5 separate regions of the Homo sapiens genome follow, and regions 1, 2, 3 and 4 are each linked to region 5. Evidence: fine-mapped expression QTL. A gene starts in region 5. Each other region holds a variant in brackets. All regions are shown on one strand. Distances are between the middles of the regions.

Region 1 (5,102 bases), 970 kb before region 5:
TCTGCCAAGGGAATGTTGAAGAATTTAATTCGAGATGAAATGTGCTCTTGTTTGTGTACAATTAATTTTCTCCCCAAATGAAAGGTTTTGTCTGTCACTTGAGTGTTTCAATAGCAACCGCGTAATTAAGGTAGCATGTGCCTCTTCAGTTTGGGAAGCGGCTGTTTGTGTTAACATGTTGGGGAAGCACACATTGCTTGGACTGGTTCCTGGGTCTAAGAAGGTAAAAAACAAAACAAAACACACAAAGAATGGAAGAAAACACCTCCAACTAGAGCCTTGGCTCCTGCGGGGATGATGTCATCTGGAAACTGTGAGCAGGACCTTCCCTGAGAACCAAGAGGCCTGGGCTTCCTGGGATGGGAGGCTGTGAGGAGGAGAACTTAGACAGTTTCCAGAAACTCTAAAAACGGAGTCATGAATTCAAACGCCCACGGGGGCCAGGTAGGAGGTGTATGTCCTGGAAGGGGTTGGCTGTAGTTTTTCAACACAAGTGTGTTTTGTTTGCGTAGCAACACACAGGTGTGAATACTTTAGTGCCACAAAGGAGTATGCACTCTCATTTGTGTTGAAATACATGGGTCTCCTAATTTAAGTTTCATGGGTTTTTTTTTTCCTGTTAATAAAGAGATGGTGTATTACTTCTCTACTGCTGTGTAACAAATTGCCACAAATTTAGGGGTTTGACACAGCAGCCATGTCTTATCTCACAGGTTTTCCAACATGATGTGGCTGGATTCTCCTCTGAGGATCTGACCAGGCTAACATCAGGGTATCTGCCAGGCTGTGGTTCTTATCTGGGACTCAGGTCCTCTTTCAAGTTTCCTGGTTGTTGGTAGAATTCATTTCCTTCTCATGTTTTCCATGTGGTCCTCCCTATGTTCAAGCTAGCTATGGTGGGTGGAGTCCTACTCATGCTTTGAATCTCTCTGCCTTCCTTTTTAGCTTTTAAGGGTTCCTGTAATTATCTTGAGCCCACCTGGATAATTGAGGATCATCTTCCTATTTGAAGGTCAGCTGACTATTTAATCTTAATTACATCTACAGAGTCACTTTTGTTCTGCAGTATAACATGATAATGAAAGTCACATCTGGTGGTGGAGGTTATGGAGACCAACTCAATGTTGAGAAGTGAAAAATCTGGTTAAAAAGAGATGAGAGATCTGAACAGACATTTTACCAAAGAAGATATATGAGTGGCAGCTGAGCATATGAAAAGATGCTCAATGTCTTTGTTGATGCAAAGTAAAATCACCATGTGATGCCACGACACACCCAGTAGAATTGCTAAATTGAGAGAGACTGACAAGACCAAGTGTTGGCAAACATTTGGAGCAGACGGAACACTCCTACATGATTGGTGGTTGTTCCAATGGTATCACCACTGTGTCAAAACAGTTCCCAGTTTCTTACAAAGTGAAACTCACACTGTTTGACCCAGTGATCTCACTCCTCGGTATTTATCCAAAAGAAATGAAAACATATGTCCACACATAGCAGCTTTATTCATCATGAAACAACACAAATGCGCATCACCCGGTGAATGGGTAAACACACCAGTGTATGCAGTTACAATGGAATATGATACTACTCAACAGCAACGCAAAAGAAATGATTTACCGATAAAAGCAGCAGGAATGGAGTTCAAAAGTATAATGCAGCCGGTCCCAGTGTGCTGTGGCTCCACGTGGCCTGTAGTCCCAAGTCCGTGCCCCACATTGCCTGCCTGCCATGGAGCCTGACCCTAAGGGCCCTGCTGCCTCCAGCCTCACTGCCATCCCCGAAGTCTCGTTCCACCAGACGTGTAGCCTGTGGTCCGGGCAGGCCTTGTCTCTGCTCCACGACCAGCACTCGCACTACCAGAACATCCTTGTCTTCTGCAGTAAAACCTACAGCAATATGCTGGTGTTGGATGGCATCGTCCTGGGCATAGGGAGGGATGAGTTCTCCTGCCAGGAGATGGTAGCCATCCTGCCTCTCTGCAGCCACCCC[A/C]AGCCACGAAAGGTGCTGATCATCGTGGGCAGAGATGGGTGTCTTGCACAAGGTGGGGAAGCACCTCTCCATGGAGTCTGTGGTCCAGTGTGACATTGACAAGGATGTCATCCAAGTCTCTAAGAAGTTCCTGCTAGGCATGGCCAGTTGCTACTCTAGTTCAAAGCTGATCCTTCATGTGGGTGACAGTTTTGAGTTCATGAAGCAGAACCAGGATGCCTTTGATGTATCACTGACTTCTCAGACCACATGGGCCCGGCTGAAAGCCTCTTCAAGGAAGCCTATTGTCAGCAGATGAAGGTGAAGGTGGCCCTCGCGGAGGACAGCATTCTCTGCTGCCAGGGAGAGCACCAGTGGCTGCACCTTCACCTCATAAGGAGATGTGGCAGTTCTGCCAGTAGCCGTGGTGGGCTACACCTACTGCATGGTCCCCATCTACCCCTGCAGCCAGACTGGCTTCATGCTGTGCGGCAGAACATGATCACCCGTGACCGGGAGCTGGTGCAGCACCTGACACAGCAGCAGGTGGGGCAGATGCAGCTGAAATGCCACAGCCCAGACACACACCGCACAGCCTTTGTGCTGCCCAGGTTTGCCTGCAAGGCCCTGAATGGTGTGAGCTGAGCCCCACTGCCACCACCAACACCACCTGGGACCTCGGACAAGGGAGTCTCCAGGGTGCCTGGGTGCCTCCAGCCCTGGGCCAGACCTCCTGCCGGCTCTCACTGATCAACCGAGTGTTACAGGCCCCAGAATGCTGCCCGGCCTGCCCTGCTGGGTGGACTGTCTGTCTGTGTGTCTGTGTTGCTCTGTGTGGCATTCAGCCTCCAAGCCTATACCAGCTGTGCACACCGCTGTCTCTCTCACTTCTGTTACCCTCCTCACTCACCAAACACATGTATTAACAACAACAAAATAGTATGTTTAGGAAGAAGCCAGGCACAATGCGGTTCCATTTGCATGCAATTCTAGAAAATTCAAAACAAAAGTGACAAAGAGTAGTGGTTGCCAGGGGCTGATAGTGGAGAGAAGAGATTGACTGCCAAGGGGTGGGAGAAAACTTTTTTGGGATGAGGGAACATTCTGGATTACGATTGTTATGGTGGTTATTTATATGACTGCATACAATTGTCAAAACTCAACAAAATGTTCACTTAAAATTGGTGGCTTTTATTATATGCAAATTATACCCTCATAGAGCTGACATTATATCATTACTATAATGGAAAAATCAGTGCTCCCTGCCAAAATTTCAGGCAGCTGTAAAAAGAAATACACATATGTGGCTGGGTGCGGTGGCTCACTCCTGCAATCCCAGCACTTTGGGAGGCCGAGGTGGGTGGATCGCTTTGAGCTCAGGAGTTAGAAGCTAGCCTGGGCAACATGTCAAAACCCCATCTCTACAAAAAATACAAAAATCAGCCAGGCATAGTGGCTTGCGCCTGTCATTGCAGCTGCTTGGGAGGCTAAGGCTGGAGGATCGCTTGAGCCTGGGAAGCAGAGGTTGAAGTGAGCTGAGATTGTGCCACTGCACTCCAGCCTGGTGACAGAGTGAGACCCTGTCACACACACACACACGAAATACATATACGTAAAAAGTATATGAAAAGTATATAAAAAGAAAACAGACATCCCGGGTGTTGTGTGTGCCTCCTTGCACCCCCCAAACCCATACTATGGCTTACTAGGCACTAGATTCCAGCTATGGGTTACATCTGGAGAGCCCCCTATTGCCCCCAATAGATGACCACAGCTGTATAGATTGTGACTATGAAGATATTTGTATGCATTGTAGAATCAGCTTAATATGTGAAATGGTAGATGTTATTCAAGGGTGCTAGTCTAAACCCACAACTGGAGGTTTGTTCAGTGAGAAGTGATTGTACACACGGTCTGTCAAATAGGACCACACTTTGCGCCTCCAGGACTTTGCACATACTGTTCCCTCTGCTGGGATTGCTCTTCCTGCAGCTCTTTGACCAGCCGGTTTCTTCTCTTTCTTGGGATTTTGGCATCAAAATAGTCTCAGAAAAGCCCTCACTGACCACCAGCCGTGCTAATGCAGCCCCCACCCCAATTACTCTCTGACTCAAAGCCATGCTCATTTTTTTCAAAGTCTTTTCCTAACTAGCTTGTTTATTGATTTAACTGTTTTTTTTTTTTTCAGAGACAGGGTCTCACTCTGTTTCCCAGGCTGGAGTACAGTGGTGTGATCATAGCTCATTGCAACCCTGAACTCCTGGCCTTAATAAAGGGATCCTCTCACCTCAGCCTCCTGAGTAGTTAGAACTACACACATGGTTTTTTTTTAATCTAAAATTTTTTGAAATTTATTTTTTGTAGAGATGGGGGTCTTGCTATGTTGCCCAGACTGGCCTGGAACTGCTGGCCTCAAACAACCTTCCTGCCTTGATTTCTCAAAGCACTGGGATTACAGGTGTGAGCCACCATGTCTAGCCACTGATTTAAATTCTTGAGTGTAGATTTTCTTTCCAACCAGACCATGAGCCCCATGAGGTTAAAGCCAGGTCTGGACCATCCCATGCAGTTTCTCCACAGCCTTGAGTGGGGGCAGTCACAAAGCAGACTGGATTAGTTTTCCATTGCAATGTAATAAATTGCCATAAACTTGGCAGCTTAAAACAATGTGCTTTTATGATCTCACAGTTTCTGCAGATGAGAAGTCTGGGCATGGCTTAGTCAGGCCCTCTGATCAAGGTCTCCAAGGCGGCAATCAGAGTGCTGGCTGGGGCTGGGGTCTCATTTGAGGCTTGGCTCCTCTCCCATGCTCCTGTGGTGTTGGAAGAATTCATTTCCTTATAGCTATAGAACTCACAGCAGCTTGCTTCTTCAAGGACAGTGGGAGAGCATGTCTCTGGCTTCAAATCTCTTCCTTCAAAAAGCCTGATATTCTCTTTTAAAGAGCTCACTTGATTAGGTCAGGCTCAACTGAGATAATCTCTCTTTGGATGAATTCAGGGTCAACTGATTAGGGACCTTAATCACATCTGCAACATAACATAATCTAATCACAGGAGTGAAATCCCATCCTATCAGCAAGTCCCACCTACATGCAAAGAGAGGGTGTTATACCGGGTGTGTTCGCTGCG
Region 2 (5,102 bases), 61 kb before region 5:
ACTGCTAGCTCGAAACATGTACACGAAAGAAAAGCAAACCTGTTGTATCTCCATGAATCACGGCCAAACACAATCCTAATACTCTGTTATTATGATTACTACAAAACAGATATTATCATACAGTCTAGCTATACATTTCATACATTGTTTGGCATATGTTTAGTAAGCTGCAAAATGCTTTCTTTCCCCACCCACAAAAGTATCTACAAACAAATATTCATTAAGGACAGATGGTCTAATAACAGTAATTACTATAATAATTACAGCAACATCAAGTATCTTTCACTATTCAGATCTATTCAGTTCCTGAGTTTAGAAAGCAAGAAGCCATTTAGAAAGATCAGATAAGGGAAACCTTGGGATACTAAGCTGTCAGAACTAGATAATGCCTGCATTTCCAATGAAACGTGGACACGACAACCAGCTGCAACACATATTAAGTGCTTACTGCATGCCAATGCCAGGGGTACAGGAGGAAGCGACTCCTACACCCCCATTTCACAGACAAGGAACAGAGTTATTTGCTCAAAGTCATGCAGAGGAGGAGGACGGAGCCAGACCTAAGTGCAGGCCCCAGGGGCTTCAGAGCCAAGTCTCTTTCCCATGGGGCTATACTGCTTCTTCAGTTCAAAAATTGGGAGAATTTAATTAGGGGAAGGAGAATAGTGTAGCCTCGTGGGAAGACCAGGAGTTGGGAGGCCTAAATCAGCGTCCCCAATCCCTGGGCCGTGGGCTGTTAGGAACCGGGCCACACAGCAGGAGGTGAGCAGCAGGCAAGAAGCAAAGCTTCATCTGTATTTAGAGCCATCCCCATTGCCCGCATGACCACCTGAGCTCCGCCTCCTGTCACATCAGCAGCAGCATCAGATTCTCATAGGAGCACAAACCCTACTGCAAACCACCCATGCCGGGGATCTAGGTTGCACCCTCCTTACGAGAATCTAATGCCTGATGATCTGTCACTGTCTCCCATCACCCCCAGATGGGACTGTCTAGTTGCAGGAAAACAAGCTCAGGGTTCCCACTGATTCTACATTATGGTGAGTTGCATAATTATTTCATTATATGTTACAATGTAATAATAATAGAAACAAAGTATACAACAAATGTAATGTGTTTGAATCATCCTGAAACCATCCCTTCCCCACCCCTAGGTCCGTGGAAAAAAATGTCTTCCAGGAAACCCGTCCCTGGTGCCAAAACGGCTGGGGACCACTGGCCTAGATCACTTAGGCATCCCTGGGTGGAGTGACACAAAGGGATCGTCACAAAAGGCAAATGTGGTCACCCACTGCCCTGCCCAGCCCATCAGCCGCTCCCCGCTTCTCTGAGAACCCCATCCAGAAGGGCTCTGCAGGACCTGACCTCAGCCTCCAAGCTGTGCTGCAGCCAGACCGGCCTCCAGGATCCTCAGCTGTTCCCCAAACACACCCAGCTTGCTCCTGCCCCCAGGCCTCAGCACAGGTGCTCCCTCCACCTGCAACACTCATCTCCCTCCTGCCAGCTGCTTCAAGTCTCACATTCCCTGCCCTCCCCAGTGAGATCCAAGGTTGGTCAGGGCCCAGGAAACCCATGCATAGGCTCCCATACTTAGTGCCACCATGACTATAACTTAACCTTGATTTATGTGATGATTCAATTAATAACAGGCTTGCCCACCAGCCTAAGACCTCTCAGAGGTCCCACTTAGTCCCAGTTTCCATCTTCTTTCATTTATGCTCATTCTTGGTGAGTGAGTGGATGGACGGGTAGAGGGAGGGAGACCCCTTTCTCTGGGGCAGGTTCCTCACCTGTAAAATAGACACTGTGTGATAACACTGCCGGCTTCATGGATTACCATGAGGACTACGAGAAATGCTGCACACTAGCTGAATGATTTCAGATGACTGATTCCTCCTCTCTGGGCCTCAGTTTCCCCATCTGCACAGCGCCCACCACTCAGGGCCTGCTGACCTGGTTGCCAAATGTAGCCCTGCCACAGACTCGCTGTGGGACCCTGAGAAAGCTGCTCCCACACTCTGTTCCCTCGTCCGCGAAACGGGGAACAGTGGTCAGATGAGAGGATCTCAAAGGGCTCCCAGCTCTGGGGCTATGAGGTCAGGCCCACACATTCTAACCACCTCGACTCCCTGCCTTCCAGCCAGACCAGTGACAACCAGCCACACCACAGACTACGACAGCTCACCAGGGATTCTGCAAGGGAGTCTTTCAATGGCTCCTTCCCTGGGGGACCTGACTATGGGACAGAGCCCCCGAGGAGGGAGGGGAGATGATGGAACCAGAGAAGCATGAAGAAGCCCCCTCAAACGAGGGCCCTGAAGAGGGGATGGCTGAGAGCTGGAAGATGGAGGTTCTGGTGTCAGACAAGCTGGTTCAAGTCCCCACCTGTCAGCGGGGGAGGGTACGTGGGCCTCTGAACCTCAGTTTCCACCTAACTCAGAGAAGGAAATAGATAACGAACCCTAACTTCAGAGTCGCACCAGAGTGAAATGCCAACGCTTACGTTACCATCACTGATGGGGTTCTTATCTGTCAGTGCATCGACGTAAAAGCAGCCCTCTCCAACTACAGACCACGCTGTACTTTCCCGACATTTCCCCAGAGTCGTGTGTCTCATTCCACTGCAGCCCCAATGCCTAGTCTGCCCTTCCTAGGTCACCCCAGGCTTTTTCTTACCT[C/A]AGGGACTTTGCACGTGCTGTTCCCCGCCCCTCATCGTCACTGCACAGGATGCTCAAATATCACCTCCACAGAGAGCCTCCCCTGACCATCCTGGCTGAAGCAGCCTCACCCAAGCCACAAGTCGCCCCCGAGCCACCCTCTACCTCGATAATCTGTTTTAATTCCCTGTAATGCAGGTAGCACAAAGTGTTGTTCTATGCATTTTGCTAATTTAGAGTCCTCCTCTCTGCGCACTGCCAGCTCCGTGATGGTGAGGGTCTCTGGCTGCTTGTGCTGAATCCACAGCATGGGTTGAGGTAGACAGAAGATGCTGAATAAATACTGGTTAAGAGGGGAAAGGAGGTGAAGTTCCATAAGCCTCCAAGCTTCCATTCCTATGTATGTAACACAGAGTAAAAGCCTCTATCTCTCAGTGTTCTTTTGAGGATTCAAGGAAATATCACTCAAAACATAAAGTGCTTAGCACAGAGAATGGAACACAATAAAAACTCAAATTTTAAAATTACCAATGTCCATCAACAGGAGAACGGATGAACAAATGGTGGTGTTCTCACACAACAGAAAATGATTCAGTAATCAAAAGAAAATTGCTAACACACGCAGCAAACTGGACGCATCTCAAAAACATGGCCCAAGCGAAAGAAGCCAGACACAAAAGGGTGCAGCCACCCGTGGGATTCCACATCTACGAAGTCCCAAAACTGGCAAGACCCTTCTTTGATGACAGAGGTTAGAAAAGCCGTCACTCGGCCGGGCCCAGTGGCTCACGCCTGTAATACCAGCACTTTGGGAGGCAGAGGCGGCCGATCACTTGAGTTCAGGAGTTCGAGACCAGCCTGGCCAACACGATGAAACCCCGTCTCTGCTAAAAATATAAAAATTAGCCAGGCATGGTGGCTACTCAGGAGACTGAGGCAGGAGAATCATTTGAACCCAGGAGACAGAGGTTGCAGTGAGCTGAGATCATGCCACTGCACTCCAGCCTGGGTGACAAAGCGAGACTCTGCCTCAAAAAAAAAAAAGAAAAGTCGTCATTCAAGGCTGGATAAAGACTGGCAAGGGGCTCAAGGGGACTCTGGAGGCAAAGAATGTTCTAGATCTTCACCTGGTGGTGATGCATACGTAATCACCAATGGAGCTGTGCACTTCACTGTCTGTAATTATCCTGCAACAGAAACTATTCCCTTTTTTTTTTTTCAGCAAAGGGTTTAAAAGGAGATTGTCACCGTCCACCCTGGTTTGTCTACTGTCCACGCATGGGTTGTCCTGGCTCAAGCCCTGAGGGCCAATACATCGTTCTGGCTTCAGGCAGAGCCAGACCCCATTCCCATTCCTTCTACAACTGTGCATCCACGAAGCCCTGGCTTCTTTGAGGCCCGTTGCCAAAGAGACGAGCCACCCTCCACACACACCCCCTCGCTGCCTCCCAACCCTGCTTCTAAGAAGATTCGGGAACAGGAAGCCTGTGTCTGCTCTCAGGTTCTGAAGCAAAGAGGCTGGGGGTGGTGGTGCGGGGGAGGGGAGATGAGGGGCTGCCCCGTTGAATGAGACGTGCCTTGAATCCTGAGGGGATCCTCTCCAGGTGTGTGAGAGGTGTCCCCCGCCCACCACAGGCACAGGGACAGCCACAAACACCTACTCTACCGTCGTCGCTGGGGCATCTCTAGGAGCCCCAGCACCCACTAGGCATGGGGCCGGCTTCGTACATCAAAGAGCCCTTGCATGTTGCCTTTCTGCTTAAAATCCTCCAACAGAGGCTGCGCTATCAGAATGAGCTCACACTCTGTGACCTCACCTCCTACGCAACTCCCTTCTCCCTCATCTCCTCCCACACTGGCACCCTTGAAGGTGCAGAAACACATGAGACAGGCTCTTGCCACAGGACCTTTGCACTGGCTGTCCCCTCTGCCTGGAACGCCTGTCACCACGTAACCACATGACTCATTCACTCTGCTCCTTCAGGTCTCTGCTCAAACGTCACCTCCTCAGTGAAGCCTGCCCTGCCCACACCATTGAAAACTGCCACATCTTCCCAGCAGCCCAGCCCTCTAATTTTGCTTCATGTTTTTCCATAGCACTTACCACCTGAGAACACTACAAATTTTCCTTGGCTGACACCTTCACTGTCTGTCTTCACTGCACACACGGTGAGGGAGAGAGCTTTTGTCTGTATTGTGCACTGCGGCAGCCTGGACACTCAGTACACAGCAGGTGCTCCATAAATCACTTGTAAGCCCAAGGAGGTAAATTTGAGGTTTATCACGGAATGGACTTTCTAAAATTTTCTGCAGGATTTCAATTGTCTGCTAAGAATATGTGCTATCTTTACCAATTAAAAAGAACAATTAGAAATCTGGTTTTAAAAGCCAGGTGGGAGCCATCTCTAGGTCAGTGGGTCTGATGCCCAGGAAGCGGGCATAAGA
Region 3 (5,102 bases), 150 kb before region 5:
GATGGCCGGGCGTGGTGGCTCACACCTGTAATCCCAGTGATTTGGGAGGCCGAGGCGGGCAGATCACAAGGTCAGGAGTTCGAGACCAGCCTGGCCAACACAGTGAAACCCCGACTCTACTAAAATTACAAAAATCAGCTGGGTGTGGTGGCGTGCGCCTGTAATACCAGCTACTTGGGAGGCTGAGGCAGGAGAATTGCTTGAACCTGGGAGGCGGAGGTTGCAGTGAGCTAAGACTGCACTACTGCACTCCAGTCTGGGTGCCAGAGCAAGACTCTGTCTCAAGAAAAAAAAAAAAAAGATCAAGATGGTAAATTTTATGTTCTGTGCAGTTTGCCACAATTAAAAGCAATAAGAAAAAATCTTTAAACAAAACAGAAAGCCCCACACTGACGGACAAAGCAGAACACTGGTCACACACCCCTGAGGAGGCCCTCACCTGAGCCAGCAGCCAGTCCACCAGCTTGCTCCCGGGAAGCACTGACTTGTAGGTCTTCAGGTGGTAATCACGGTCTCTGTGGAGAAGGTGAGCGCACAGTGAGCAGGGCAGGGCGGGGAGGACAGAGGTGGGGGTGGTCCTGACTTCCCTGCAGGACGTGCCCACGAGTCAAGGATCTCCAGGCTCTCTAGGCATTGGGCAGGGGTCCGAGTCTCAGCCCAGACTCCACACATCACTTGCAGTGTGACCGAGGGCAGGGCTGTTCCAAACCAGGCCTCCTTCCACCTACAGAGTGGGAGGCAGGAGGCAGCAGCTCCAGGGCTCTGGAAACTTTCTGTCTCTAGCCCAGGAGATCTCAGCTGGGGGTGATTTTGCCCTCAGGGTATGTCTGGAGACATTTTTGGCTGTCAAGACCTGGAGGGGCTAGGGCAGGGGTGCTGCTGGCATCCCGTGTGTAGAGGCCGGGGATGCTGCTGAAGATCCTACAATGCCAGGCAGCCCCCAACAGAGACTCATCCTGGCTACGATGCCACCGGCGCCGAGGCTGGGGAGCCATGTTGACTCTCACAGAGTGGCAGGGGAGACCCTCCATTCTTTCCTTTCCTTTTTCCTTTTTGTTTTGTGGTTGACATTGATGTATTTAAACCAAACCATTGTGGAAAGCCCCTGCAAGGGGCTGGTGTGGTCTATCAGGGCCGAGCAGCACAGAGGCCTGTGAGTTTCACGGTTCTTTCCTGAGGTAACTGCCCTGGCCTGTGACAGCATCTGAATCCCTGCCGAGCCTGGATCCCATGGGTTCCGCTAACCTTGCAGCCGAACTGCAACAACTTCTCAGCCTCTGAAGCTGTGACAAAAACGCGCTTCTGTGGCCAGTCCATGCCAAGGCTGATAAAGTCTAGTTGGAGGATTTCTCTCAGGCTTTAGGACTGGGGGGGTCTGACAGGCTCCACGTGCAGTTGGTGGGGGTCTGCTACCTTCCCCAGCCGCTTCCTTCTTTGAGGCTGGCCAAGGAGCCCCACCTGCCTTCTGGGGCTTGCACAAGAGCAGCAGCAGAGGAGCCCAGGAGGGCGGAGGCAGGATGGCAGATGAAAGTGGTTCCCAGGGCCTGACATCCCACGGGGCCAGCAAATGCTAGGAAATGGTCCTTCCTCTCCACTCTTCCGAGAGGTGATAAGAGCTATCAGGTCAGAGGACAGAAAAATCTGCAGCTGGGATAAGAATCAGGTCACCCTCTCTCCCTTCATCCACAACTGTGAGCTTTGTGGTAAAAAGAATAACCAATCTCTGGCGTTCATTATACAATGCCAGGAGCCATTCAAAGCACCTTCCGTGAATTTAATCCTCATGGCAACCCAAGAGGTGAGAGCTATTCTTATGTCCACTTAACAGATGCAGAAACAGAAGCAAAAGAAGTTAATCATCTTTCAACATTCACTGACAAGCTTTTACTGAGTCCCTAGGCCTCTGCTCTCCAATAGGTAGCCATTTTAATTTAAATTTCAATCAATAAGGCCAGGCACGGTGGCTCACACCTGTAATCCCAGCACTCTGGGAGGCTGAGGCAGGCAGATCACTTGAGATCAGGAGTTTTGAGACCAGCCTGGCCAACATGGTGAAACCCCATCTCTACTAACAATATAGAAATTACCCAGGCATGGTGGTGCATGC[C/T]TGTAATCCCAGCTACTCGGGAGGCTGATGCAGGAGAATCGCTTGAATCCAGGAGGCAGAGGTTGCAGTGAGCCGAGATCATGCCAATGCACTCCAGCCTGGGCAACAGACCGAGACTCCGTCTCAAAAAAAGAAAAAAAAGAAAAAGAAAAAACCAAACATATAAAAAAAGGCCAGGTGCAGTGGTTCACGCCTGTAATTCCAGCACTTTGGGAGGCCAAGGCAGGCAGATCACTTGAAGTCAGGAGTTCGAGCCCAGCCTGGCCAACATGGTGAAACCCCACTTCTACTAAAAATACAAAAATTAGCCGGGCCTGGTGGTAGGCACCTGTAATGCCAGCCACTCAGGCAACTGAGGCATGAGAATCACTTGAACCCGGCGGAGGTTGCAGTAAGCCAAGATTGCGCCACTGCACTCCAACTTGGGGGACAGAACGAGGCTCTGTCTCAAAAAAAAAAAATTAGCTAGGCATGGTGGTGCACGCCTGTAGTCCCAGCTACCTAGGAGGCTCAGGTGGGAGGACTGCCTGAGCCTGGAGGTTGAGACTGCAGTGAGCTGTGATTGCACCACTGCAATCCAGCCTGGGTAACGGAGCAAGACCCTGTCTCAAAAAAAAAAAAGAAGAAGAAAATTAAAATGAACAAAGGGAGCTGATATCGTTGGGTTGTGTCCCCACCCAAATCTCATCTTGAATGGCAGCTCTCATAATTCCCACATACTGTGGGAGGGACCCAGTGGGAAACTACTGAATCGTGGGGCAGTTCCCCCATACTGTTCTTGTGGTAGTGAATAAGTCTCACAAGATCTGATGGTTTCATAAGAGGAAACTCCTTTCACTTGGCTGTCATTTTCCTTTTGCCTGCCAGGTAAGACGTGCCTTTCACATACCTCCACGATTGAGAGGCCTCCCCAGCCATGTGGGACTGTGAATCCATTAAACCTCCTTTTCTTTATAAATTACCCAGTCTTGGCTATGTCTTTATCAGGAGCATGAAAACAGACTAATACAGAGGACAGAAAGTACCAGGTTGGTGACACTTTATGCAGGTAGGCAGGGAAGACCCCTGTGATATGGAGGCGTTTGAAGGAAGTGAGGGAACGAATATGAAGGTATGCAGAGGAAAGGCATCCTAAGCAAAGGGAACAGCAGGCACAAAGGCCCTAAGGTGGAGCCCATTATTATCCCCATTTCACAGAGGAAACGGTTGAGGCACAGAGAGGTTAAGTAACTCTGCCCAAGGTCACACAGCTGCTAACTAGGAGGGAGGTTCAAGCTCAGTCTGTCTGGCTCCAGAACTGACACCTGCATCACTACACTGCAGTGCTTCCCACAATTTAATTCAGTTAATCCTAATGACAAATCTAAAGGATAGGTGCCACTGCAAGCCCCATTTAATGGAGAAGGAGACTGGAGCTCAGAGAGGTTAAGTTGCCAGCCCAAGGCCACACAGCTGAGAAGAGGTAGAGGTGAAATTGGAGCTTGGAAAGAGTAACTTACTTGATCACCGGGGTGTAGAGGCTGTGAAGACGGCAGTAAAGCCTCACACCCTGAAAGAAAAAAGGGGAGGAATTCTGGGATCAGGCCACATCCTTCACGAGCCTCCAAATCCAGGCTGATGGGAGAGATGGCTTCCAGGACGGGGCAGGGCAGGGTAATGGGGGCAGGGGTGAGTTGTGGGCAGTGGAGAAGGCAAACAAGCCAAGGGGCACAGGCCTGCTCTGAGGCGAACCCAGGGTGGAGGTGAACGAGGCCAGCTGAGTCAGAGTCACAGGGGCGGAGGGCCCCTACCTTGGACATGATGTCCTCCAGCTCACTTCGGGCCTTGTAGGTGCCATCGTCGTAGCGGAAGCGATACATCACCTGCTCATTCTTGAACTGGTGCTTGTCGGAAACTGGAGAGACAGGAGGACCTGTGACGCTGGGCACGCCCCCTCAGCCCCTCCCAGCCACGCCCCCCAGCATTGGCCTTCACTGCCAGCCACGCCCCCTCTGCCCCTCCCAGTCACACCCACCAGCATCAGGCTTCACTGCTGGCCAGGCTTTTTTTTCACTGAAACCCCACGAGGTGGGTGCTATGACTTCCCCATTTTGCACATGAGGATACCCCATCCTCCTGCTACGTGCAGGACCCTGCTGAGACTCGCAGCTTGGGGTGGGGCATCTACAGGGGTGAGGGACCCAGAAATGCCCCTGATCCAGCCTGCACTGGGACCCCTCTGGCTCAGCATGTCCTTAGATCTAGATCACCAATGGATGGGTGGGGACAAGCATGCTGGGGCCTGAGACCACATTGCTGAGATTTACGGAGCCATCTCTATCCCACAAAGTCATGCTTGATGCTTCAGATCCATTAGCAATGCCTATAAGGCCCTAACCTTCAAGATACCAATCACCTCACTCCTACACTGGCCCGAACCACCTTCGCCTCCCACCTGGACTATCACAGCAGCCTCTTTGCTGGGCTCCCTGCTGTCACCCTTGGTCCCAACAGTCTCCACAGGGCAGCCAGAGGGATTCTGCCAGCGTGTTCGTCCAAGCAGGTCTTTCCTCTACGCAGAGCTCAGCAACAGCTTCATAGCTCACTCAGAGTAAAAGCCAAAGACCCTACAATTCTCTATAGGATCTCATCTCACCTCCTGGACTCTCCCATCAGCCCTGTGCCCTCTGACCTCGTCTCCTACCACGCCCCCTCCTCACTCTGAGGCAGCCACACTCCCTCCCTGCTATTCCCTGCACAACCCACTTAGACTCTGCCTGAGGACTTTGCACTGGCTGTTCCCTCTGCCTGGAACCATCATGCCCACCTGGGTCCCTCCCTCACTGGTGGCTCAGGTCCTGGTTCCAATGTTACCTTCTCGGTGAGGCCTTCCCCATCTCCCCTATTCAAAAGTGAACGCCAACACCACACTCTTTACCCTCCTTCCCTAGCACCTATCATGTTTTACTATCTTGCTTTGTAAAGATAAGCAAGTAAAGATCTTATCGTCCCCTCC
Region 4 (5,102 bases), 69 kb before region 5:
TGACTGATGGTCAGCATGTTCGTCCTGCATAACAATCCCACAAGGTGGGCTACTGCATCCCCTTTTTAGGAAAGAGGAAAACAGGGCATGAATCACACATTAGGCTCTGGAGTCGGCCAAGCCTCGCACCTCAGTTGCCTCATCTATAAAATCTGTGTAATGGAGCCTCACCTTGCAAGTCGCTGACATGAGGATTAAATCTGACACTGCTTGTAAATAACTTGTTGCCTCTGCCCACGGTGGGAGCCCCCGGCCCCCAGGATCCAGCCAGGATCACAGGAGGTGCCCAATAAGTCCTCAGTAAATGTCCAGTGAAGGGGTGGGCACTTTCAATTCCGTGTAGCCCCTGGACCAGCTCAGACCAGGCCCCTTCCCTGGGCACATTTCCTTGGCACCATTCCTTGGACCTATAGAAATGTTGGAGGCCTTTAAAAATACGTGCATTGGCTCCAAATACAAAAGGAAAACTGCATTGTCAAAAAGAATAAATCTTGATTTAAATGTCTACAAAATTACCAATCAACTCTGCCTGTGGCTATGTGCACAGAGAATGCAGGGAGTGTGTGCTGTGGGTGCATCTTAGCGGGTGTACCATGACAGGACCCTTGGGGTGGTTCCCCAGATGCAGCAGACCCTGAGGCAAGAAGTGGAGTACAAGTAGTTTCTTTGGGAGGTGGGAGGTGGGAGATGGTCCCTGGAAACACCAACAGGGAGGTGGAACCAAGAAGGGAAGGCAGCCCACGAAGGGTATGAGACCAAGCAAGTTACCACCATGAGGCCCCAGACAGACCGTGTGGAACGCACACCTCACAGCCACCCTCAGGGAGTGAGGAGGCCAGGGAGTCTGTACATCAGCCCTGTCTGTCACTAGTTTAAGGGCAGTGGGGGTGATCCTGGCACTCCCCATCTTCCCTGAAAGTGACAGAGCAGCTCAGAGCAGACAAAGCCATCAGGCAGAGGAGCGCAGGTGCTGGCAGTGGAGCGTCCCTCTGGTGTGCCCTGGAGTGGTTGAGGTGTCGCAATGCAGCCTCAAAAAGAAAGAGGGTGTAGGGCCCCCCCGAGCTTGGGGGGGTGAAAGACAGGGCTTTGCAGCACCGCAGCCACACAGGCCAGGCACTTCAGCAGATGTTCTCCTAATACACACCAGGACGGCCTCGCTGCCTGTTAAAACACCAAAATACTTCTGAGCTGATGGGGAAAATCTCTACATGTGCAGGGCTGAAGGTCAGAGGAGGTGGCTGCGGAACCACAGGCAGTCCCCGGTCAGACGTGGAGGCAGGTTTCACGTGGAGCAGACACAGGGAGCAAACAGCATTGCGTGTATCTGAGGATACAGCATCACGGGCAGGGTCAACAGCTGGGGCAAAGGCCCCAAGGCACATTCAGTCTTTCCAAGACAATCCTATCGAAAACGCCTATCCCTGCTCTGTTTTCCTCACAGCACCTGTCACCATGGACATTATGTGTGTTCATTATCAGTCTATTATCCATCTAGCCCACCTGAATCCAGGCTGCATCTGCGGGGAACCCATACACATTCCCCTGCGGAGGCCAAAGATATGGCCAGCATTCCACCTCCTCCTCCCATGCCCCAACTCTCAGAAGCCCTCCCTACCCTTAGAAACTCTCTCTACTCCTTGCTAGAAGGGCACTGTATCTCCTAAGCAAGCAGTATGTAAGAGTGGATGAGGCTCAAAGGCTAGAACTAGCCACCTGGTTCAAATCCTGCCCCTGCCACCTACTGCTCTGTGACCTAGGCAACTGACTCCATCTCTCTGGGCCTCATCTATAACATGGATGGGGACCATAAAACTACTGACTTCATGGGCTATTGTGAGGCTGATATGAAATACTGCAGGCAGGCCAGGCGCGGTAGCTCACGCCTATAATACCAGCACTTTGGGAGGCTGAGATGGGTGGATCACCTGAGGTCAGGAGTTCGCGACCAGCCTGACCAACATAGTGAAACCCTGTCTCTACAAAAAATACAAAAATTAGCCAGCCATGGTGGCTCACATCTGTAATCCCAGCTACTTGCGAGGCTAAGACAGGAGAATCATTTGAACCTGGGAAGCAGAGGTTACAATGAACTGAAATCGCACCACTGCACTCCAGCCTGGGTAACAGAGCAAGATTCCATCTCAAAAAAAAAAAAAAAAAAAGAAAAGAAAGAAAAAAAGAAATACTACAGGCAAAGCATTTAAATGGGCTCAAATCCCAGCTCTGCTGCTTACAAGCTCT[A/T]AGACCTGAAGTAAATTATTTATTCTCTCTGCCTCCATTTCCTCCTCTATAACGGGGGATAAAATGAGTACACAGGATTACAATGAGAATTACAGAAGCTAACACACATAACAAGCACTTGAATGGTCCCTGGTGCATAGCAGGTGCTCAAAAAACATTAGCTATTATTGGCCAGGCTCACACCTGTGAGCTCACACCTGTAATCCTAACACTGTGGGAGGCCGAGGCAGGCTGATTGCTTGAACCCAGGAGTTCGAGCAATCAATCAATACGGCAAAACCTCATCTCTACCAAAAATACAAACAAACAAACAAAATAGCCAGGTGTGGTGGCGCACACCTGTAGTCCCAGCTACTCGAGAGGCTGAGGTGAGAGCATCACTTCAGCCTAGGAGGCAGAGGTTGCAGTGAGCCAAGATCGCACCACTGCACTTCAGCCTGGATGACAAAGCAAGACCCTGCCTCAAAAAAAAAAAAGCATTGGCTATTATGATCTCCCCATCTTGAGTTTCTAGAGTGTCTGCAGGGAGTCCAAGCCCTGGTGCAGGTAGACAGAACCCACTGTGCTTCCTAAGGAAACCTGGATTTGGATCAACCACATCTGTAGGGCTTCTACATGCACCAAGCACACTCACATTTATCCCACACTATTTTTACTTATTTTTATTAGTTTTTTCCATCCTGCAAATAGCTCTATTATTATAGACTGCCTGCTTCCGAGTCTCCTGAGGTGAGATGAGAAGGGGAAGGCTTTATAAACTGCAGAGCCCCCCACATCCTCATCACCACCAGCGCACCCCTCTGCCCTGCCCCATCCTCCTTGCTGACTGCCAACCACGTGACTTCAGCAAGTCACCACACTTCTGAGTCAATTTCCTGGACCAAACAAAAAGGGGGGGAGGAGTAGTTGTTGAGGTTTAAGTGAAATGATGCAGGTGAACACTTTGTAACTACAAACACTTCCTGGAAAAAGTGGCAGAAAGGCTGAGCCAGGAGAGGGAGGCTGGACTAGGAAAGGGGCAGGAAGTTGCTTGTGATGATATTCTAGGGGGACAAGTCCTCTCCGAGTACCAACCATCCCAGCAAGTGTTAACCAGGGCCTGCCGTGCACCAGGCACCGAGCTGGGTGCTGGAGACACAGATATAAGCCATGACCCTGCCACGGAAGGACTTATGCATTCTTACATTCGCCTGTGTAGTCAGCAAATACTTACTGCACACCTATTATGTGCCAGGCACTGCGCTAAGAGCCAATGACACATCAGTGAATGAACAAATCAGACTAACTCCCCACCTTCACAAAGTAGTGGCAGAGACAGACTATACACTGATTTTAAAATAAAATGGCAGGTAGGAATGATTGCTACAAAGAAAACTAAAGCAGGGTAAGAAAACAGAGAAGGATAAGGTGGGAATGCCATTTCAAGGAGCTGTTCAGAGAAAGCCGTTCTGAGAAGATGGCATTTGAGCAGACACAGGGAGCAAACAGCATTGCGTGTATCGGAGGACACAGCATCATGGGCAGGGTCAACAGCCGGGGCAAAGGCCCCGAGGCACATTCAGTCTTTCCAGGACAATCCTATCGAAAACGTCTATCCCTGCTCTGTTTTCCTCACAGCACCTGTCACCATGGACATTATGTGTGTTTATATCAGTCTATTATCCATCTAGCCCACTTGAGTCTCACCTCCAGGAAGGCAAGGATGTTTGTCTGTCTAGGTCACTGTGGTGTCCCAGAGCCTAGGATTGGACCCAGCACACAGCAGACCCTCGAAAAGGATGTGTTTAATTAATTAGTCAATCAATCATCTAGAGTAGACTACTCCCACCCCCACCCAGATTCTAGGCCCTGGTAAAAGGTGCCCAGTTCTCACCCCACCCCGCCCCGTTCCCCACCACATCGGGAGAGGAAGTTGATGCAAAAAACAAGTTGCAACAACCTGTCATGAAGAGGTCTGATGCAACAGTGGGGGAAGGCAGTGGGGGACACTGAGAGGAACCCAATGCTTTTCTTCACGCAGCCCCCATCAAGGGGCTGGGGCCTGGCCTACAAACTTTCCTGAGTTCACCAACAACCCATCCTTCCTTCAACAGATATTTATGCAGAGCCTCCTCTACATGATGGGGCTACCTTATGGGTCTCAAACTGGTAACTCAGAGGCATCATTCCTTTGGCCTGCAGAGGGGTTTGAGAAACTTGGGCCTAAGTTTGAATATCAGGTTTCCCATTAAAATCCAAATTCCAAGCTTCTTTTGAAAAAACTGACACATGGGTCTCAAATGCCCACAAGGCTGCAGGTGCTGTAGAGCAGAGTGATAGCCATCACCTTCACCCAGGACAAGTGCTCCTCAATTTCCCACCACCCAACCCACTGCTGCGCCCTGTGAACACCTGAGTGTGAGACTTCTGTCCTAGACACAGGCAAGGCAAACCTGAACCTGCTACTTCGCCTTTACCCTCACCCAGGGCAGACATCACTAATGGAATGCAGATCTTTTTCCTGCTAAGTCTTCTCCAAGCCGTTCAGAATTTATCTCCCTTCACTGTTGTCAGAAATGGTCTAAAATCCTTCCCATTCACAACCCAGCTTCTCCCTACTCCTTTGGGCTCCTCAGTTGTTGATTTTTTTCCTGAAAAATGGGCTCATCAGAGTGGGATTCTAGCAGAGATTCTCAACTTTGGTACCTTGACAGTTCAGTGGATAGTTCTTTGCTGTGAGGGATGTCCTGAGTATTATAAGACACTCAGCAGCTTCCCTGCCCTCTACCCTCTAGATACAAATAACAACCCTCCTCTCCTCAGTTGTGACAATCAAAAATGTGTCCAGACATTGCCCATGTCCCCTGGAGGCAAAATCATCC
Region 5 (5,102 bases):
CCAGTACATCTCCTTTCACAGGCAGAAGGGCTCTAGTCTAAGGCTGTCTCCTCCCTGAGCTGGAACTCTGATCTCACACAGCCTCAGCTGCACCCCTAAGCCATGAGGAGCCCCAGAGGACCCCAGAGTCTCCCTCTTTCTCCCAAAGACTAGGAGCTACAAAGCCTGGCTCTAGGGTCTTTGAAAGAGCCACCCCCACACCAGCCCTTCCTGAACCAGGATTAAAAGACTTCCTAGAGCAGAGAAGGGGAGTAAATGAGGCCCCAGCAGGAGGCATGGAGATTAAAGACTTTAGAGTCTCCTAACTTCCATCCAAGGCTCTGCCCCGTCCCACCCCCTCCACCCGCTGGCCACTTTTCTCACTTCCTAGGAGAGTAGGGAAGTGGCCCCTTCCTCCCTCTCACAGAAAAAAAGCAAAAGAAAAATGCAGCATAGAATAGGGGTTTAGAACACCAGCTGGGATAGTCCCGGTTCAAAGCCCAGTACCCCCACTTAATCAGCTGTGCGATCCCAGACAAGCTACCCGGCCCCTCTGGAGCTAAACTTTCCCAATCTTAAAAACGGAGGAGGCAGGACCCAGTAGCTCACGCCTGTAATCCCTGCACTTTGGAGGCCGAGGTCGGCGGATCACTTGAGGCCAGGAGTCCAAGACCAGCATGGCCAACATGGTGAAATCCCCTCTCTGATAAAAATACAAAAATTAGTCGGCCGTGGTGGCTGGCGCGTGCCTGTAATCCCAGCTACTCGGGAGGCTGAGGCAAGAGAATTGCTTGAACCCGGGAGGCGGAGGTTGCAGTGAACCGAGATTGCGCCACTGTACTCCAGCCTGGGTGACTGAGGGAGACTCCGTCTCAAAAAAAAATTTTTTTAATTAAAAATGGGGGAAATACTCGTCCCTACTTCATAGACCGCCTGTGAAGGTTAAACCTGCTAATTAATGACACATGTAAGGTGTCTGGCACATAGTAAGTGGTCGGTTGTTATTTTACAAAGTCTGAGGCCGTGGTTTTGCACTTGGAGATGGGGAGTTGGTGGGGGTGGATGCAGTTAGGGAGCCTGGACTGCCGAGTTTTGAGTTCGAAACCCACTCTCCCCGAACTCCAGCAAAAACCTGTGCATGGGGGATTCTACCCTGGGGTTCTGTCAATCCCCGCCCCTCCTCTGAGCTTCAGGTTTTATCCTACTCCATCAACGCGCAGGGACGTTGGGCTCTGGGGCTCCTACGGTATGTCCTAGATGAGTGGTGCACCGGGCGCGTAGTTATTCCTGGGAAAAAGACGCAGGAGCGCCAGCTCCCGGCGCCGCCGGGGTCCCCAAGCCCCTGCATCGCGGATGTAACTAATTTTAAAACTATTTGAAAGGCGGGGACGGGGAAGAAAAGACAAAAGGGCAGCGCGCGCCGCGGGGAAGTGGAGTGCGGGAGAGCCCCGGTCGGAGCAGGACCGTGCGCCGGCCAGGGAGGGAGGCGACGCGACAGCTCTGGAGGAGCTCGGATCCCCCCCGCTTTCCGCGCGCCCTGCGGGGCGCCCCCGAGGCAATTCTCCACCCACGGGGACCACGGCCACAGGTTGTGGGGACCGCAGCGGGGCGAGCGGCTGGAGGGAAAGCTGTCCCCAAGCTCCCGAGCGACACTCACCGACTGCAAGAAGCGCAAGGTGCCCACGTAGTCCCTCTCGGTGCCCAAGATCTCGTTGAGGACGCAGAGGCGGAGGCGCAGCTGGCGCTCGGACTCCCGGGCGGCCGCGCACGGGCCGGGGCCGGAGCTGGGCGCCGCGGCGCCAGGGGCCCGGGGGTCCGGGTGGGCGCAGTCCCCGGCCCCGTCGCCGCCGGGCTCGCTGCCGCTGGGCGCCTCCATTCTAGCGCGGCCGCGCGGCGCCGGCTCCTTCCGTCGCGCCGAGCGGCAACTCAGGCGTCCAGGCGCCCCATCCCGGACGGGGCGCGCCGGCGGGCCGGGCTCAGCGGCGGGCCGGGCTCCCGGCGCGGCGGGCGGGACTGGGGGCCGGGCGGCTGGGCCGGGGGCGGAGGCAGCGCGCGGGGGCCGGGCGAGGGGCGGGAGGGGGCGGCCCTCGGGGCTCCCAGACGGCTGGCCCCCCGCCCCCGCGCCAGGGACCGTCTGCCAAGTGCCACGCCGCGCTCGGCCGCAGAGGCGCTCTGCGCGTGCACGGGGCCCCTGGGGACGCGGCGCGGCGCTCGGCGCCTCCGTCGGAAGCTCGGGGGTCGGGCGGGAGCCTCCGGAAGGGCCCCGCGGAGCCGGGAGTCCGAGGCCGCGCGCACGCCGAACCGAGCGTACCAACTCCGCGCCCGGACGCGTGGCGCCCCCCCAACCCGCAGTCACCGCGGGCTACGCCACTCCCACCCGGCACACGCGACACCCGCCGCGCGCAGGCTCCTGCTTGCAGGTCCGGCCGCTGCTCGGGCCAAGTAAACACCGGGCTGGGAAAGCTCGCTGCGGAGCCGCTCGGGGGCAAGCCAGCCCCGCCACGCGCGCCTCCGCGGCCCCGGGAAGTCAGGGGCGACCGCTGCCTGGGCAGTGACGGCCCCTCTCTGGGCAGTGACGGCCCCTCCCGGGAACGCCGGGCCCTCGCGGTGCCCTCGGTGCTACCACGACCTTGGGAAGGAACATGCGTGGCGCGCGCTCGCTCTCACTTTTCTCTTTCCCGTTTCCTTTCCCATCTCTCTCTTTCCTTCCTTCCTTTTCTTTCTGAACTTCTTTGCCCCCTGACCCTGCCCTTTCCACCTTTCCCAGAAGAAATTATTACCTGCTCTTGAGTTATTGATCAAGTGGCAGGTACCCTGCCTGCTCCCCCTTCCATCCACCCACCCCATGGGATAAGGCCTTGGGAAACCCAGCTTCTTGTCAGGTTGCTCTGGGCAATGTTGATCATCACCCGCCTTATCGGAAGGTATGGAGAGGGGAGGAAGTTCTGGGGCCTAGAGTCAGCTGCTCAGGTTCAAATCCTAGCTCCCCACTTGCTGGCCGGGTGGCCTTGGGCTGGTTTCCTTGCTTCAAGATCCTCAGTGTTTTCATCAGTATAACGGGAACGATCATGGTACCTAGCTCCAAGGTCCTCCCCGGGGTTCCATGGGAAGTACTTAGCACCTAGAAAGTTCTCTGTAAATGTTTGTTCTTACTATTATTGCATGTGTGAAGCCCAACACCTAGAAAGTTCTCTGTAAATGTTTGTTCTTACTATTATTGCATGTGTGAACGGCCCTCTAAGCCTGGCCCCACTCTCAAATGGCCCATACAATCCCTAATCACCCGTGTTTCCGGACCAGAGATTGTATCGTCTCTGCAGGGGATAAAGTGATCCACATAGTATCCGCCTCTAGACTGTAGTCATTTTATGGACAGAAACATTGCTTATTTATTCCTGTTCCAAAAGCCTAGGATTTTCCTCCCATTGGCCTCTCAATACTGTAAGTGCCTAAGGACACAGGGAGAGAATGGGGTGGCTTCTGCCCTCTCTGACTTCTTTCTTTGGGATCATGGGCAAGGTAGCATTTGATCTGGGCCTTGGGCTGAGTGAAGTTCCCCTGGGCAGGGAGTAAAGGACATGAGATAGGTGAGCCTGTCACGCTTGGGTAGTGGAGTCAATTGTGTCCAAAGGTAGCTGGTTTTTTATTTATATTTTTATTCCTAATAAAGGCCTCTGGAGTATCTCTGCTTTGTGACTTTAAACTGTTCACGGTACCTTTCTGAGCCTCCGTTTCCTCATCTTTAAATTAATTCTGTCTACCACGAGGGGAGAACATGGCTGGAACATAATGGACCATGGAATGAAGCGGGCTTGCATTTGTATCCCAGTCCAAATCCAACTGGCAGGGTAACCTTGGCCAAGACACGTTATTTCTCTGGGCCTCAGTCGTCTAATCTGTAAAAGGGGAGTCTTTGTGAGAGCGAATTCTATGCAATACAGACTTTCTCAACCTTGGGACTATTGACATTTGGAGTCACATAACTCTTTGTTGGGGGAGGGGCGTGTCCTGTGCATTTCAGGACATTTAGCCGCGTCCCCTACCCACTAGATGCCAGTAGCACTCCCTCCCCAATCTGAGAATCAAAAATGTCTCCAGGCTGGGCACAGTGGCTCCGGCCTCTAATCCCAGAATTTTAGGAGGTCCAAGTGGGAGGATTGTTTGATCCCAGAAGTTCAAGACCAGCCTGGGCAACATAGCAAGACCCTGTCTCTACAAAAAAATTTTAAAAATTAGCTGGGCATGGTGGCACACACCTGTAGTACCAGCTGCTGGGCTGAGGTGGGGAGCTTGCTTGAGCCCAGGAGGTCAGGGCTGCAAGTAAGCTGTGATCACACCACTGCACTCCAACCTGGACAACAGAGTAAGCCTTGCCTCAAAAATAAACAGAAAAAGTGTCTCCAGACATTGCCAGATATCCCTGGGGACAGAATTGCCCCCTGTTGAGAACCACTGATGTAAAGTACCTGACACACATAGCTGGCACAGAGTAGGTGCTCAACAAATGTTAGTTCCCTTCTCAGCCCATGACCAAGGAAGGTTAGCCTCAAGTTTACACACAAATCCCACATTTCACCCAAGAATTGGCCCACACTGCCAAAAAACATTTCCACGTTGTGGATGGGTCCCATCTCTGGCCCACCCCAATGTTTTATACATCGTTACTTCCTCAGATTCTGCTGGGATCTTTTTCCCCTTCCATCCCCATCCCCAGTGGTAATGATGACACTAAAAGATAATACAGCGTTTAGTAACATACTTAAGCTCTCTGTGCCTTGCTTTCCTCATCTGTGAACTAAGAATAATATCAGTACCTACATCATAAAGTCGTTGCAAGGTTCCTGAGTGCATACATGGAGGGTGCTTAGAGCACACAGTAGGTGCTCAATAAGTGAAGTCTTTTACAATGCGTGGATTGAGTGCTGAATCTAATAGGATGCATTTGGCTGCAAGGAGAAGAAAACTGGGCTATTGATAGCTTAAAGCATAAGGACATTATTTAGCAAGAGGTCCAGAGGCAGTTGGTTCCTGAGGCTGGTGTAGGACTTCATGATGTCATCAAGGATCATGGCACCTTTGACCCTCCTATCCTCAGCATGGTGGCTTTTCCTCCCAAGCTTTAG

What was found. PIP is the estimated chance that this variant, and not a neighbour inherited with it, causes the effect. A credible set is the group of variants that fine-mapping cannot tell apart.
Region 1: its variant is the best candidate, but not a certain one, in a credible set for the expression of PREX1 in aorta (GTEx, PIP 0.59).
Region 2: its variant is the best candidate, but not a certain one, in a credible set for the expression of PREX1 in fibroblasts (GENCORD, PIP 0.52).
Region 3: its variant is the best candidate, but not a certain one, in a credible set for the expression of PREX1 in whole blood (INTERVAL, PIP 0.62).
Region 4: its variant is the best candidate, but not a certain one, in a credible set for the expression of PREX1 in whole blood (INTERVAL, PIP 0.74).

The regions. Positions count from the first base shown.
Region 1 is chr20:47,858,057-47,863,158 of GRCh38, forward strand. It overlaps the pseudogene SRMP1. Among named protein-coding and RNA genes, the nearest start is that of SULF2, 75 kb to the left of the region's middle. The variant A/C (reference allele first, on the strand shown) is at 1,993.
Region 2 is chr20:48,765,086-48,770,187 of GRCh38, forward strand. The region is part of intron 1 of PREX1 (phosphatidylinositol-3,4,5-trisphosphate dependent Rac exchange factor 1); the gene reads right to left. Among named protein-coding and RNA genes, the nearest start is that of PREX1, 60 kb to the right of the region's middle. The variant C/A (reference allele first, on the strand shown) is at 2,679.
Region 3 is chr20:48,675,754-48,680,855 of GRCh38, forward strand. It overlaps PREX1 (phosphatidylinositol-3,4,5-trisphosphate dependent Rac exchange factor 1), which reads right to left. Exons shown (of 40, transcript NM_020820.4): 12 at 3,898-4,001; 13 at 3,607-3,656; 14 at 440-515. Among named protein-coding and RNA genes, the nearest start is that of PREX1, 150 kb to the right of the region's middle. RefSeq lists a silencer at 3,997-4,166. The variant C/T (reference allele first, on the strand shown) is at 2,108.
Region 4 is chr20:48,757,407-48,762,508 of GRCh38, forward strand. The region is part of intron 1 of PREX1 (phosphatidylinositol-3,4,5-trisphosphate dependent Rac exchange factor 1); the gene reads right to left. Among named protein-coding and RNA genes, the nearest start is that of PREX1, 68 kb to the right of the region's middle. RefSeq lists enhancers at 620-1,614, 1,128-1,207, 3,995-4,044 and a silencer at 3,415-3,464. The variant A/T (reference allele first, on the strand shown) is at 2,242.
Region 5 is chr20:48,826,006-48,831,107 of GRCh38, forward strand. It overlaps PREX1 (phosphatidylinositol-3,4,5-trisphosphate dependent Rac exchange factor 1), which reads right to left and starts at 1,994. Exons shown (of 40, transcript NM_020820.4): 1 at 1,637-1,994. The coding sequence starts at 1,855. RefSeq lists silencers at 1,488-1,557, 1,968-2,647.